4 linked regions of the Homo sapiens genome follow. The protein of the gene in region 4 purifies or fractionates together with the protein of the main gene of each other region. This does not show direct contact. Each region holds a gene or a part of one and is shown on either strand. Other genes may lie near its edges.

Evidence for each region. Proteins that work in one complex are often made in the same cells at the same time.
Region 1: the proteins of CCDC51 (region 4) and SERPINB2 purify together in Homo sapiens (affinity purification with mass spectrometry; 3 studies listed by BioGRID and IntAct, with this or other methods). This does not show direct contact.
Region 2: the proteins of CCDC51 (region 4) and DUSP14 purify together in Homo sapiens (affinity purification with mass spectrometry; 3 studies listed by BioGRID and IntAct, with this or other methods). This does not show direct contact.
Region 3: the proteins of CCDC51 (region 4) and PKP3 purify together in Homo sapiens (affinity purification with mass spectrometry; 3 studies listed by BioGRID and IntAct, with this or other methods). This does not show direct contact.

What each region holds. Positions count from the first base shown.
Region 1 is NC_000018.10:63,897,646-63,901,088, reverse strand, and holds part of SERPINB2 (plasminogen activator inhibitor 2), read right to left. Parts: intron 3,363-3,443; coding exon 3,245-3,362; intron 1-3,244. UniProt on the Homo sapiens protein: Inhibits urokinase-type plasminogen activator. The monocyte derived PAI-2 is distinct from the endothelial cell-derived PAI-1.
Region 2 is NC_000017.11:37,506,832-37,510,432, reverse strand, and holds part of DUSP14 (dual specificity protein phosphatase 14), read right to left. Parts: intron 1-3,601. UniProt on the Homo sapiens protein: Involved in the inactivation of MAP kinases. Dephosphorylates ERK, JNK and p38 MAP-kinases. Plays a negative role in TCR signaling by dephosphorylating MAP3K7 adapter TAB1 leading to its inactivation.
Region 3 is NC_000011.10:400,650-404,250, reverse strand, and holds part of PKP3 (plakophilin-3), read right to left. Parts: coding exon 3,546-3,601; intron 1,174-3,545; coding exon 988-1,173; intron 634-987; coding exon 480-633; intron 309-479; coding exon 116-308; intron 16-115; coding exon 1-15. UniProt on the Homo sapiens protein: A component of desmosome cell-cell junctions which are required for positive regulation of cellular adhesion. Required for the localization of DSG2, DSP and PKP2 to mature desmosome junctions.
Region 4 is NC_000003.12:48,434,336-48,437,159, forward strand, and holds part of CCDC51 (mitochondrial potassium channel), read right to left. Parts: intron 802-2,824; 5' UTR 794-801; coding exon 482-793; intron 1-481.

The DNA of each region.
Region 1 (3,443 bases), on a different chromosome or scaffold from region 4:
AATGACAAATGAGTGTGGTCATTTAAAAAAATGAAATTGGTTTAAGAAGCAGTTTGTTTATAGTTAGTACTCGCTCTGCAGTATTCCAAGCATCAAAATATATTATTTTGATACTCTATTAGGTGGGTTTTATTAGTGTCATTTTATGCAAAAGGACACCACCAGGTTAGCAGTCTTCCCAACGTTACAATGCTGGTAAGCTTGTAAAAATTCTGCCTCCACAGTCAAAACTACTGACAAATACAAGACTCTTAACAAATTAATAGGTCAATGTGGTTTTGAAGTAGGAGGTGGGACCTGACTCTGGAGGCAGGTTTTAGACACCAGGCCAAATTGAGGGCTAGCTAAAATGGGGACCAGGGACAGGATGGAAGCAGTGTACCATGTCAGTTTACCATTGTGATGGCAACACCTTGGAGTTACCACCTCTTTCTGTGGCAATGACCTGATGACCCAAAAGTTATTCCCCGTTCCCTAGAAATTTCTGCGTAAACTGCCCCTTAATCTACATGTAATTAAAAGTAGGTATAAATATGACCCCCAAACTGCCCTGAGCTGTGCCTCTCAGCACAGTGCCTGGGGTAGCCCTTCTCTGCAGGAGGAATCATGGAGCTGTAATACTGCCACTTCAATAAAGCTGTTTTCTTCTACCCTACCTCCAGCTCACCCTTGAATACTTTCCTGGGTGAAGCCAAGAACCCTTGAAGGCTAAGCCCCACTTTGGAGCTTGCCTGCCTTGCATCAGTTTCATCTTCAATGTATTCATTTAATATATACATTCAATATATTTCCCAAGCTATTAAAATTTTTGGTTAGTATTGGGGTATAGTAATGTTGTGATGTATATGATAAAACTAGTATTTGATCATAGCATGATGAAACAGACAATTCTCTCCAATTCTTACAAAAGCTGGTAAAACAATCTGCCAAAATAGCTGCTTGGCATTTTGGCAAAATAACTGATTGACTTACAGCCATTTAGCACAATGTCTAAAGAGAAAAACAATTCATGCCATTCTTTAAAGAAGGCAAAACTTCCATGTGTCTCTTTAATTTTGCTCTCCATTTTTACTTGAACTTTTGATTTAAATCATCTTTCTCTGCTTCCTTTGTGTCAGTGGTCTGTCAATATTTTAGAACAGTATTTCACAAATCCACAATGAAAATGAAGAACTAAAAGGAAATCAATTATTTTCAGATAAACAAATAAATATATATTTTTTGAAATCCCATAGCACTTAGTTTATGTGCATTTTCCATTGTGGTAATTAATAAAGCAAGACACCAAACTATTTCTTGAAACAATGTCTTAAACATAAGAGTTAAATGAAAATCCTTAAAAAAATAAGTTATAAAATTTTTAAACATCCGATTGAGGAATTCTGGAGTTAGACTAAGGATCAGAAGAAGAAGCAACCCTGGCTTTACCGCTACCAGTGGGATCTTAGGGGAGCCGGCTAATCCCCTGGGAACAGGATGCTCCAACCACAAATTGGTAAGATGGATAGGAGCTCTCTTAGGACATTTTCAATCCTAACAGATCATAAATGAATGAAATACTTACACAATTCTGAATTCATAATCATCTCTGTTTCTTAGAAATACATTTATATGTTATTATTCAGCAATTGTTTACTTAAGGCCTACAACTCTACCTGGAAATTCAGAAGAATGAAGGATTTTCACTGTCAGCAAAAAACTGTGCAAATTTTTGTGGGGGCATAGGATAAGTGTGACATACTGGACCTACCCAAAAATAATTAGAGCCTGAGAGGAAAAGCAAAACAAACTAACAAAAATCAGTTCCATAATTGTTTAAGGCCATATATGGCTAACACTAATGTGACTTGTGAAGCTGAAAAAGCAGATGAGGAGATGAGAAGAAGAAAAGATCAGGAAGTAATTGGGAGTCACTTCCAGGAAAGAGTAAGACTTTGGCTGCAATTTAAACTGCAACTTAAATCCTGTAGTTGAGGCATCCTCAGAAACAAAGTCTAGAGGCAGCAATGAGTGTTTAAGGAGCTCCAAGGGCCAGTGGTAGCCAAGCACAGTCAACTGGATTACTGAGAACTCAGAAGTCAAGGTAAAGAATGAGACCTTCTCCTGAGGACAGTAGGAGGTCACTGACAGTTTTTAGTGTGGGAATAGCATAATAAGTGTACTGCATCACCTCTTTAATTTCACCTCCTTCCCTTGGCCCTCCACACTGCAGTCAGACCAGACTCTATTCTTCTCCTTAGGGTTACCTCTGGACCTTTGCATATTCTGTGCACTCTGTCTGGAAATCTCCCCCCAGGCATGCACCCTCCACCTGGCCAGCTCCAGCCTGTCTTCCCAATTACAATTTAATCATTTTTAAATCCAGTCAGATGCCTTTCCTGTGTACTCCCACATAGCACCTGTACTTCTCAATGAAAGCACTGACTACTACTCTATAGCAATTGCCAACATGACTGAATCCCTCCTCTATAGGCTCTATGGTGGCAGGATTTACCATTTTTATCTTTATCTCCACATATAGTTTCTGGAATATGGTGTGTGGTGGATAAATATTTGTTGACTAAGTGAATGAACTTAATAGAACTTAATGAATGAATGAATTCAATGAATAAATGACTTAATAAACTAAATTACAATGAATAAATGATTCAATTAAATAATTTATTCATTGTAAAATATACAGAGGGAGGCAGGAGCCTGTGAAACAATTAAAAGCATGAGTTAAAATGGTAGACGTGACTTAGATAATCAAGGAGGGATGAAGCAGAGACCAAAAAAACTTGACAATGGATTGGCTTTGAATGGTGAAAGAGAAGAAAGAGTGAAAATAATTTTATGATTCTTCCCTCCTCCACTGCCTGTATTCTTTATAGCTCACACCATTTACTAAGCTCAGGGTCAAGCCTTGTTTTCTTTTTGTCCACAGTGGGCATAGACTCACAATTATTTCAATGCTGATATTTCCTATTTTGAAAGCTTCTGCCTCCTTTCATATTCTATCCTCAAGCAATATCCAAAATCAAATATTTAAGTACTAAACATATGTCTTCTATTAGTAGGCCTCAATTATTTCTTCTCAGTTAAAACACCACTGAGCTAATCAGGAATAAATTCACATCCACCAAAGTAACTGCAGTTGGACAAATTGTAAAGGGGTGAGGGCTAACTAAGTTCATGGATGGAAAAAGATAGATCAGAGTTTTCTAACTGGAAAGAAGTAAATAAAATATTTTCTTGGATTTACCTTTGGTTTGAGTCTTGACCCAGGAATTAATCTTTTTTCTAGCTTCTTCTGCACATTCTAGGAAGTCTACTGCCTGGGGTTCTGAGGAGTAATATTTCTGACAGAGTCGAATATATTCCTTTAAAGCAAGAAAATGACAAAGGCTACATAAAATACATACCAAACAAGCCATGGCATAATGGTGAATTATGGTCTTCCC
Region 2 (3,601 bases), on a different chromosome or scaffold from region 4:
ATCTCATCCTCTTGAGAGGAGGAGACTCAGAGACCACAACCTATCCGCGAAATGTCCGGCACTGCTGCCTCCTCGGTGGGCTATGAGGACACAACACGGACTCGAGTCTCTTCCATGCACCGTTAGCCAGCCCTGCAGTGGGAAGGCCTGGGCGGCACCGCGGTGGGAGGACGGACAGGCCAGGTGCAGCAAGGGTGAGCCAAGCAGCCCTGTGCCTGAACACAAGGTGGAGGACAGTGTGCACCAGGAAGCTAAGGACAGGCATGGCCGGGACATGGCACGGAGGACGGCTTCATGAGGAGCAGGACCGCAGATGTGGCTGCAGCCAGGAACGCTAATTACAGGCGGTGCTGGTGTTCAGGATGGCAATTTGACATTTTCCTTCATTTTGTTTTCTTTTCCATGTTGGCCCTATTTTATTCATTTATGTTATGTAAGTACCATGAACATCATAAAAAATGTGTTCTTCTACCACCTGTTCCCCCACCTTTCCCAGGTAACTGTCAGACCTGTCGTGTTTTTTTTACAGCTCTGTTGAGGTGTTCTTGACATATAAACTGCTATACAACTTGATCAGGTACATTACCTGATGAGTTCTGACATATGTACACAATGGAGACACCAGTACATCATAATAATAAACACATCCATCATCCCCCTCAAAATTTCCTCATTTTTTTTAATAATCCAACCCTTTCTTGCTCTTTACCCCATTCCCAGGCAACCACTGATCTTTCTTATCACTATGGTTTGCACTCTAGACTTTTCTATCAATGGACTTTTATATATTTATAGCATATAAATATATATAGGCCAAGCGTGGTGGATCACGCCTGTAATCCCAACACTTTGGGAGGCCGAGGCGGGTGGATCACTTGAGGCCAGGAGTTCGAGACCAGCCTTGCCAATGTGGAGAAACCCAGGTCTCTACTAAAAATACCAAAATTATCCGGGCATGATGGCACACACCTGTAATCCCAGCTACTTGGGTGGCTGAGGCAGGAGAATCACTAGAACCCAGGAGGAGGTGGAGGTTGCAGTGGAGCCGAAATTGCACCACTGCACTCCAGCCTGGGCAACAGAGCAAGACTCTGTCTCAAAAACTAAACACACACACACACACACACACACACACTATATATATATATATATATATATATATATATATATATATATATATATATATATAGTGTGTATATAGTGTGTATATATAGTGTATATATACATATATAGTACACATATACATAGTACATATATATATAGAGTGTGTGTGTGTGTGTGTGTGTGTGTGTGTGTGTGTGTGTATATATATATATATATATATATATGGGTTTTTTTTTTTTTTGGTCTGGCTTCTTTCACTCTGCATAACTTAGACATTCACCCATGACGCTGGGTTATCAACAGCTCACTTCTTAAGTACTCTGCTGTGTAGATACACCACACTCTGTTTATCCATTCACCTACTGATGAACCTGGGTTGTCTCTAGTTTAAAGGTATTGTGAGTACAGCTGCTATGAGCATCCACGTACAGGTCTTTGTGCGTACATATGCCTTCCTCTCTCAGTTCAATACCCAGGAGTGAAGGGCTGGGTCCTATGACACGTATGTTTAACATTTTAAAATGGTTTTTGAAAAAAAAAGTTTATAAATATACATATATATTTATTTATACATACATATATATATATATATATTGAGATGGAGTCTGGCTCTGTCACCCAGGCTGGAGTGCAGTGGCGCAATCTCAGCTCACTGCAACCTCCACCTCCCAGGTTCAAGAGATTCTCCTGCCTCAGCCTCCTGAGTAGCTGGGATTACAGGCGTGCACCACCACACGTTGCTATTTTTTGTACTTTAAGTAGAGACGGAGTTTTGCCACATTGGCCAGGCTGGTCTCAAACTCCTGACCTCAAGTGATCCACCCACCTTGGCCTCCCAAGGTGCTGGGATTACAGGCATGAGCCACTGTGCCTGGCTCCATTTACAACTATTTCTATCATTATAATGCAGGGGCTCTCAAACCTGAGCATGCCTCAGAATCCCCCAGAGGGCTGTGCGCACAGACTGCTGGACCTTTCCCCAGCTTCTGATTCCGTCCCTCCAGAGTGGGGCTGGAAGAGTTGCCTTTCTGAGGTGAGGCTGCGGGTCGGGGGCACGTCTGAGAACTGCTGCAGAGGTGAGTGCTGTGGCTCTGTCTGCATTCCCCCTGGAAGACTGAGGCACCAGGTGTACTGGTGCTAACAGACCACAAGTCCCTCCTGGACACTGCCCTTCTCTGAAGGGAGCTGCCTCCTCACTCGAGGCTAGGCCTCGCTTTGGGAGCCCACATCCCATGACTGGTTAATGCTATGGGAGTACACAGAGCAGTCCACAGGTGAAATCACAGCATGAGGAGGAACAAGGACGCAGTCACATAAGGAAACTGCGTGTGTGTGCATTGGATGTAAACTATGAACAGGGCAGAAACTCTGAGAACATCCTTTCCTACAGCAGAGCAGGGTCTCCTGCCACTTCCAAGTCTTCCCTGGCAGAATCCTACTGGTTTAAAAAGCAAAGTCACTGTGGTAATAAACACAAAATTAGGCCTTCAAGCTGCTGGGGATGACGCTCCTCATTGTGGAAAATCTGGAAGATGCTAATCAAATTTCCAAGTAGGTTATCTAGTTGTTGTCTAATTCAGAGAGGCTTGGCCATAGACACGGTGGCTTACGCCTATAATCCCAGCACTTTGGGAGGCCGAGGCGGGCAGATCACCTGAGACCAGCCTGGGCAACATGGTGAAACCCCGTCTCTACTAAAAATACAAAAATTAGCCAGGTGCAGTGGTGCATGCCTATAATCCCAGCTAGTAGGGAGGCTGAGCCAAGAGAATCGCTTGAACCCGGGAGGAAGAGGCTGCAGTGAGCTGAGATCGCGCCATTGCACTCCAGCCTGGGTGGCAGAGCGATGCATCCTCCCAAATTACGCTGTCTGGGAAGCCACTTGCCTTCCTGAGGCAAAGGAGCCCAGGTTCCCTGTAGAAGCCGGGCTGATTCCGTTAACTCGCATTTGCTGAGTGGCGCTAGGGTACTTGGTGCTGCAGGGAAAACAGATTGTGAGCCCTCGGGGCAGAATCCAAGTGAGACAGACACATTGCTCCCTCCCTGCTGCTGCCAGTCCATCTCTTTGCCAACAAACCTGCTTAAAATGCCAAAGCTGGTCCAAAGTTTCAGGAAAACAACTTCCGCCAGAGGGCACGTAGAGGGCACAGATGCTATAGATGCTTCTCTGACAAACACTCCTGACCCCCTTGACAGATTGGAAAATACATGGTTCAGAAAGGGTGAGAGATTTCAACTTGAGAAGTGAAACTAGGAAAAGATGGAAGGTGTCCGGATTTCTAGCTCAAGTCCACACACTGCTTCTCTGCGGTGACTAAATCGTGGCTGTGTTCTCATCACCTGCCTCGCGGCGCTCCACACCACCAGCCAGCGTCTGCCACACACGCGGGGGGGTGTGGATCTGCCTAAGAAGGTGTTTCAGTGCTACTTACAGAAAGGCTAAGCCCAGATGGGCCGAGCTGCTCCAGTTTCCCCTAGTGCCAGAACAGGGAACTAC
Region 3 (3,601 bases), on a different chromosome or scaffold from region 4:
TTCTCACTGTCGGGGCTGAGGGTGGAGGGCAGTCAGGAGGGGACACACAGCCAGAAAGCAGGGTGGACTGGGAGGACCCCTGACCAGGCTGCTGCACGGCTGGGTCGGCCCCTACCTGTCCCGCTTCTTCTTGATGAAGATGAGCTTTCGGAGTCCGTCAAAATACAGCAGGTCTCGGGCAGCGATGGGGCTGGCCACCACCAGGTTGTTGAGCACAGCTATGATGTTGACCAGCACCTCGGCTGGGGGCGACTTCTCACCCACGCTGCCCGGCAGCTTCTCGATCAGGTGGCTCACCACCTTCGTGGCTGTGGGAGGCCGGGGGTCAGTCTGCACCCCTACTCCTGGCCACCTGGGCACCTGGGGTCCCCTGCCTCCCCCAGGGAGCTGGACTGGCCCCAGTGGTCTGAAGCCCACACTTAAAGACAAAATTGACATGTGGGTCCAGCAGGGCAGGGACGAGGGGCTGCCCGACTCACACATCTCGTCCTTGTTCCTAGCGTTCCGAGACAGGTTTCGGATGAGGCCAGTCAGTGAGCGCAGCTGGTGGTGGTCGGCGGTCCTGACACGGTCTAGCAGGGGGTTCAGAATACGCTCCTGCTCCAGGGCCAGGCGGCTCAGCACCCCCGCCCACTGTGGGGAGGGAGGGTGTGAGCCGTGACCCGGAGGCCTCAGACCCTCACCTGAGGGGGTCCTGCCACAATGGGGTCGCTGCATCCTCTCGCCACCCTCAGGGGGGCCTCTGCTTCTGCCTTTGCCCCCCAGCCGGGGGGAATCAGCCGCAGCCCGGATCAGGTGCCTCCCTTCAAACCCAGGGCAGGACTTCCATCCTCCCAAGGCCCAAGGCCTGCGCCACCGGGACGCTGACCTCCGAGGCTCCGCGGACCCTGGGCGTCCCCTTCCTCCTCCCCTCCCTCTCCCTCCTCTGTCCCCCCCTCAACCGCATGAACCCCTGGGACCCCCTCGGGTCTGGGTTGGGTGCCCCACCCTGCGGTCGCCTGCCGTGATGTTCTGCAGCGCCCCGGCGGCCGCCTCCGTCGTGTGCCGGTTGAGCTCGCAGCGCTGCAGCAGCCGGTTGTACAGCCCCACGATCTGGGGGCTCCACAGCCACTCGAGGCCCTTGGGGTCCTTGGACACCTCCGCGAAGGTGAGCGCATCGGCGGCGAGGGGCAGCTGCGCAGGGCGGGGAGGAGTCGGCGGGGTCGGGGTGAGCGGGTCGGGGTGAGCGGGTCGGGGTGAGCGGGTCGGGTGTGAGTGGGGCGGGGGTGAGCGGGGTCCGGGGTGAGCGGGGCGGGGGTGAGCGGGGCCGGGGGTCGGGGGTGAGCGGGGTCCGGGGTGAGCGGGGCGGGGGTGAGCGGGGTCCGGGGTGAGCGGGGTCGGGGTGAGCGGGTCCCGGGGTGAGCGGGGCGGGGGTGAGCGGGGCGGGGGTGAGCGGGGCCGGGGGTGAGCGGGGCCGGGGGTCGGGGGTGAGCGGGGTCGGGGTGAGCGGGGCCGGGGGTGAGCGGGGCCCGGGGTGAGCGGGGCAGGGGTGAGCGGGGCGGGGGTGAGCGGGGTCGGGGTGAGCGGGTCGGGGGTGAGCGGGGCCGGGGGTCGGGGGTGAGCGGGGTCGGGGTGAGCGGGTCGGGGGTGAGCGGGGCCGGGGGTCGGGGGTGAGCGGGGTCGGGGTGAGCGGGGCCGGGGGTGAGCGGGGCCGGGGGTCGGGGGTGAGCGGGGTCGGGGTGAGCGGGGCCGGGGTCAGTGGAGCCGGGGGTGAGCGGGGCCGGGGGTCGGGGGTGAGCGGGGTCCGGGGTGAGCGGGGCCGGGGTCAGTGGAGCCGGGGGTGAGCGGGGCCGGGGGTCGGGGGTGAGCGGGGTCCGGGGTGAGCGGGGCCGGGGTCAGTGGAGCCGGGGGTGAGCGGGGCCGGGGGTCGGGGGTGAGCGGGGCCGGGGGTCGGGGGTGAGCGGGGTCCGGGGTGAGCGGGGCCGGGGTCAGTGGAGCCGGGGGTGAGCGGGGCCGGGGGTCGGGGGTGAGCGGGGTCCGGGGTGAGCGGGGCCGGGGTCAGTGGAGCCGGGGGTGAGCGGGGCCGGGGGTCTGGGGTGAGCGGGGTCGGGGTGAGCGGGGCCGGGGTCAGTGGAGCCGGGGGTGAGCGGGGCCGGGGGTCGGGGGTGAGCGGGGTCCGGGGTGAGCGGGGCCGGGGTCAGTGGAGCCGGGGGTGAGCGGGGCCGGGGGTCGGGGGTGAGCGGGGTCCGGGGTGAGCGGGGCCGGGGTCAGTGGAGCCGGGGGTGAGCGGGGCCGGGGGTCGGGGGTGAGCGGGGCCGGGGGTCGGGGGTGAGCGGGGTCCGGGGTGAGCGGGGCCGGGGTCAGTGGAGCCGGGGGTGAGCGGGGCCGGGGGTCGGGGGTGAGCGGGGTCCGGGGTGAGCGGGGCCGGGGTCAGTGGAGCCGGGGGTGAGCGGGGCCGGGGGTCGGGGGTGAGCGGGGCCGGGGGTCGGGGGTGAGCGGGGCGGGGGTGAGCGGGGCGGGGGTGAGCGGGGTCGGGGGTGAGCGGGGTCGGGGGTGAGCGGGGCCGGGGGTGAGCGGGGCCGGGGGTGAGCGGGGCGGGGGTGAGCGGGGCGGGTGTGAGCGGGGCCGGGTGTGAGCGGGGCCGGGTGTGAGCGGGGCCGGGTGTGAGCGGGGCGGGTGTGAGCGGGGCCGGGTGTGAGCGGGGCCGGGGGTGAGCGGGCCGGGGGTGAGCGGGGCGGGTGTGAGCGGGGCGGGTGTGAACGGGGCCGGGGGTGAGCGGGGCCGGGGGTGAGCGGGGCGGGTGTGAGCGGGGCGGGTGTGAGCGGGGCGGGTGTGAGCGGGCCGGGTGTGAGCGGGGCCGGGTGTGAGCGGGGCGGGTGTGAGCGGGGCCGGGGGTGAGCGGGGCGGGTGTGAGCGGGGCCGGGTGTGAGCGGGGCCGGGTGTGAGCGGGCCGGGGGTGAGCGGGGCGGGTGTGAGCGGGCCGGGGGTGAGCGGGGCGGGTGTGAGCGGGGCGGGTGTGAACGGGGCCGGGTGTGAGCGGGGCCGGGGGTGAGCGGGGCGGGTGTGAGCGGGCCGGGTGTGAGCGGGGCCGGGTGTGAGCGGGGCCGGGTGTGAGCGGGGCAGGTGTGAGCGGGGCCGGGGGTGAGCGGGGCGGGTGTGAGCGGGGCCGGGTGTGAGCGGGGCCGGGTGTGAGCGGGCCGGGGGTGAGCGGGGCGGGGGTGAGCGGGGCCGGGTGTGAGCGGGGCGGGTGTGAGCGGGGTCCGGGGTGAGCGGGGTCCGGGGTGAGCGGGGCGGGGGTGAGCGGGGCGGGTGTGAGCGGGGCCGGGGGTGAGCGGGGCGGGGGTGAGCGGGGTCCGGGGTGAGCGGGGCGGGGGTGAGCGGGGCGGGGGTGAGCGGGGCGGGTGTGAGCGGGGTCGGGGGTGAGCGGGGCGGGGGTGAGCGGGGTCCGGGGTGAGCGGGGCGGGGTGAGCGGGGCGGGGGTGAGCGGGGCGGGGGTGAGCGGGGCCGGGGTCAGCGGGGCCGGGGTCGCAGCACCCACCCCACGCCCCGCTCAGGCTGGTGCCCACCTCGCGCAGCCGCCGGCTCTGCGGCGTGAAGCAGCCCACGACCTCTCCCGGCGGCG
Region 4 (2,824 bases):
TCCCACCACGCTACACTACTACATGCCTAAGCAGGAGTGGGAACAGAGATGACAGAATGCATTTCTGCCACCACAAAGGACTTGACAACCACCACCAGCTCTTTCCACCTCACACTGTGACATTTCCTAGTGCCCTCTATCTTCACAAAAGATGTTGTAATTACACACAGTAACAGTACCGCAGCAAGCCCCACGTAACTCTCACCATCAATCCCCAAATGGTCCACAAAGGAAGTATTTGCTGGCCTCACAGAGTGGATGTTAGTGGCCAGGGACTTACTGGTACACAGTAACTGTTTTCGGGGAAAGTAGGTGGCACAGTTACATGGAGACCTTCACCCCAGAAGCATCAAGCCCAGGTTTCCACGTGAGAAATGAGGCTAAACACAAGTCTGGATGTGGCTACCCAGCACCACGTGACTGGTTTGGCACATTTCCCAAGTCAGAGGGCGGGGCCAGCCACCCCAGCTCCCCTCCTCACCTCTGTCACCTTTCCCTGGGCCTCTCGAACCTCGTTGAGTCCAACAAACTCTTCATATCTGTCCCACCAAGTCTTGGCTGTGGAGGTCGCTCGTTGCTGAATGCTGTGCCCCAGGGCTCTTCCCAGTGCTGGGAGGCGGTGGTGCAGCCCCAGGGCCACCTCCTCAGGTCTTTTCTCTCCGGGCTGGCTTGGGCCTGGGCTGCAGAGAGTCCTGGTCATGAAGAGGTCCCTTCCAAGGAGGCCCCTCCGAACCAGTACGTGGGGCACACCCACGATGTGCTGCATGGCAAACCCAGGGCTGCGCCCCATCATCCTGAGATCTGTGAGGGGGACGCCAGACAGGTCAGCTCACAGCTGAGAAAGGCTGGACATAAGTCAGTTTTGAGGCCTAGGGACAGTTCTGAACAGACTAATCCCCACTCAAATCATCTAAACTGAGCACCACCCTGTTGGGCCCAGAGACTGTGGCCCCTGTGGCAAGAGGATGGTCAGGCTCTCCTCTGGGTGCTCTTGGACAATGGAACACAGTTGGGGACGAGCCTCTAGGATGCCATACCTTCCAGTGCCCGCCACCATGCCACACAAAGCGGACCCTTCCCTGCTACCCACTTCCCTACATCCTCCAGGTCTCTCTGCTGTGACTTGAATGAGAATCCTGGTGCCCAGGTTTCTGATGTCAAAGACAGTTTTTAAACCAGACTTGTACACATGCTGACAAAGCCCCACAAAGACGCATAAATACTCCCTGCAATGTTGTGGAACTCAGGGGAATTCAGGAAGACTAAGATCCAGGATCATTTCTGTAAAACAGCCTCAAAACCAACTCCCCAGACTCTCCAAGGACTGCCTCAGCACAAGGGAAGCAGAGTTTCAATTCTGTGCAAGGACCTAAGGACACAGGCCATTTGTGACCCAAGACAGAAAACTCTCAGCTCTCCTCTAAGATAATTCCAGGGGCAAAAAAAAACAAAACAAAACTGTTTTTGCCACAGAGGACTTTTCTTAGGTTCACGCCATACAACTCCGCCCCCAGACTTTCCAGGCTACCAACTCTCAGTCTCACACTTCACGACTTCCATAAGCTTTCTCTTTCCTCTCCAACCTGCCATTGCTCAACAGGTTAGGTTTCTCTCATCTTTCCCTTTTCCATCTTGCTTTGATGTTTGGGCCTGCTTCTCATTACCTGGACAGCAGGGAGTCTCCTGTTATCCAGAATCAGGCCTCACCTGAGCCCAAGAGTGCCAGTGACTCTGAGGACCCCAAAGAGGTGGCCAGGTGACCCATTTTCCCAGAAAAAGCTGAGCCAACAGCACCCTCCTCTGGCCAAACCACACCTCAAAGTCCCTAAGCACTGATCCTGGCTGTGAGAGCGACACCTGGTGGCCAACAGACCACGCCACAGAGAGAAAAGCAGAGGGAGCTGCAGACAGGAAGGAACTGAAGGAGCTCCAGATACAGAATAGAAAGGGGCTTCCTGATGGAAGGTGATATGAGACAGAGGCTCCCCACAGCACCCTAGCCTCCTCTCCATCATGCTGTGCTAAGAACTGTCTTTGGAGAAGCTCAGCGGCTTTGAAAACACAGCTGGTTGGGTAGAAACATGTCTTCTGGGCAAAGTGGGCCTGAGCTGAGAGCCGCAGAAGGGAACTTCACTGTGACAGTGATCCCAAGCTGGTGCCACACCCAAACCCCTGGGCCCCCTTCATAAGGCTGGGTTCCATGCCCATGAGGGTGCATACCATCCAGGCCCCAGCAGCCCAGTCAGACTCCCAGGCCTCAAGGCCAGCACCCATGACACACAGGCTGAGATCCTATAACACCCCTGCAGGTGTATCCTTCATCAGACAAAGCATGCAGTGTCCGCCATGGCTGGCACCACTTTCAACACCCTCTCTTCCCAACATCACTGCCCCTCTTGGCTTCCTCCAACCTTCTCAGCCTCCTTTCCCAGCACCTCCTCTACTAGCTGCCCATTTTTAGACCCCAGCAAAGTCACCCATTCCTGGCAGAGATGACAGCTACTGTCTCCTATGCAATCTCGGCTTTCTCCCCTGCCGTCCCCCACCCCCATGTTCTGCACATGGCAGCCCAAGGCCCTGTAACACAAAAATCAGATTACATCCCTCTGATCAAAATCCCCCAACAGCTCCCATTTCACCTGGCGGTGGCCAAGAAATCCTGAGACCTCTCAGCCCTCATCCTCTTCCTTCTACTGCCATACTCTGCTCCAGCCACCGTGCTGGTCTGTGCCCTGCCACCTTGTCCAGCTGGATGACTCTTCCTCCACGAGTCTACTCGGCTCACCCCGACATCTTCATCTTTGCCCAAATATCACCTCTCAGT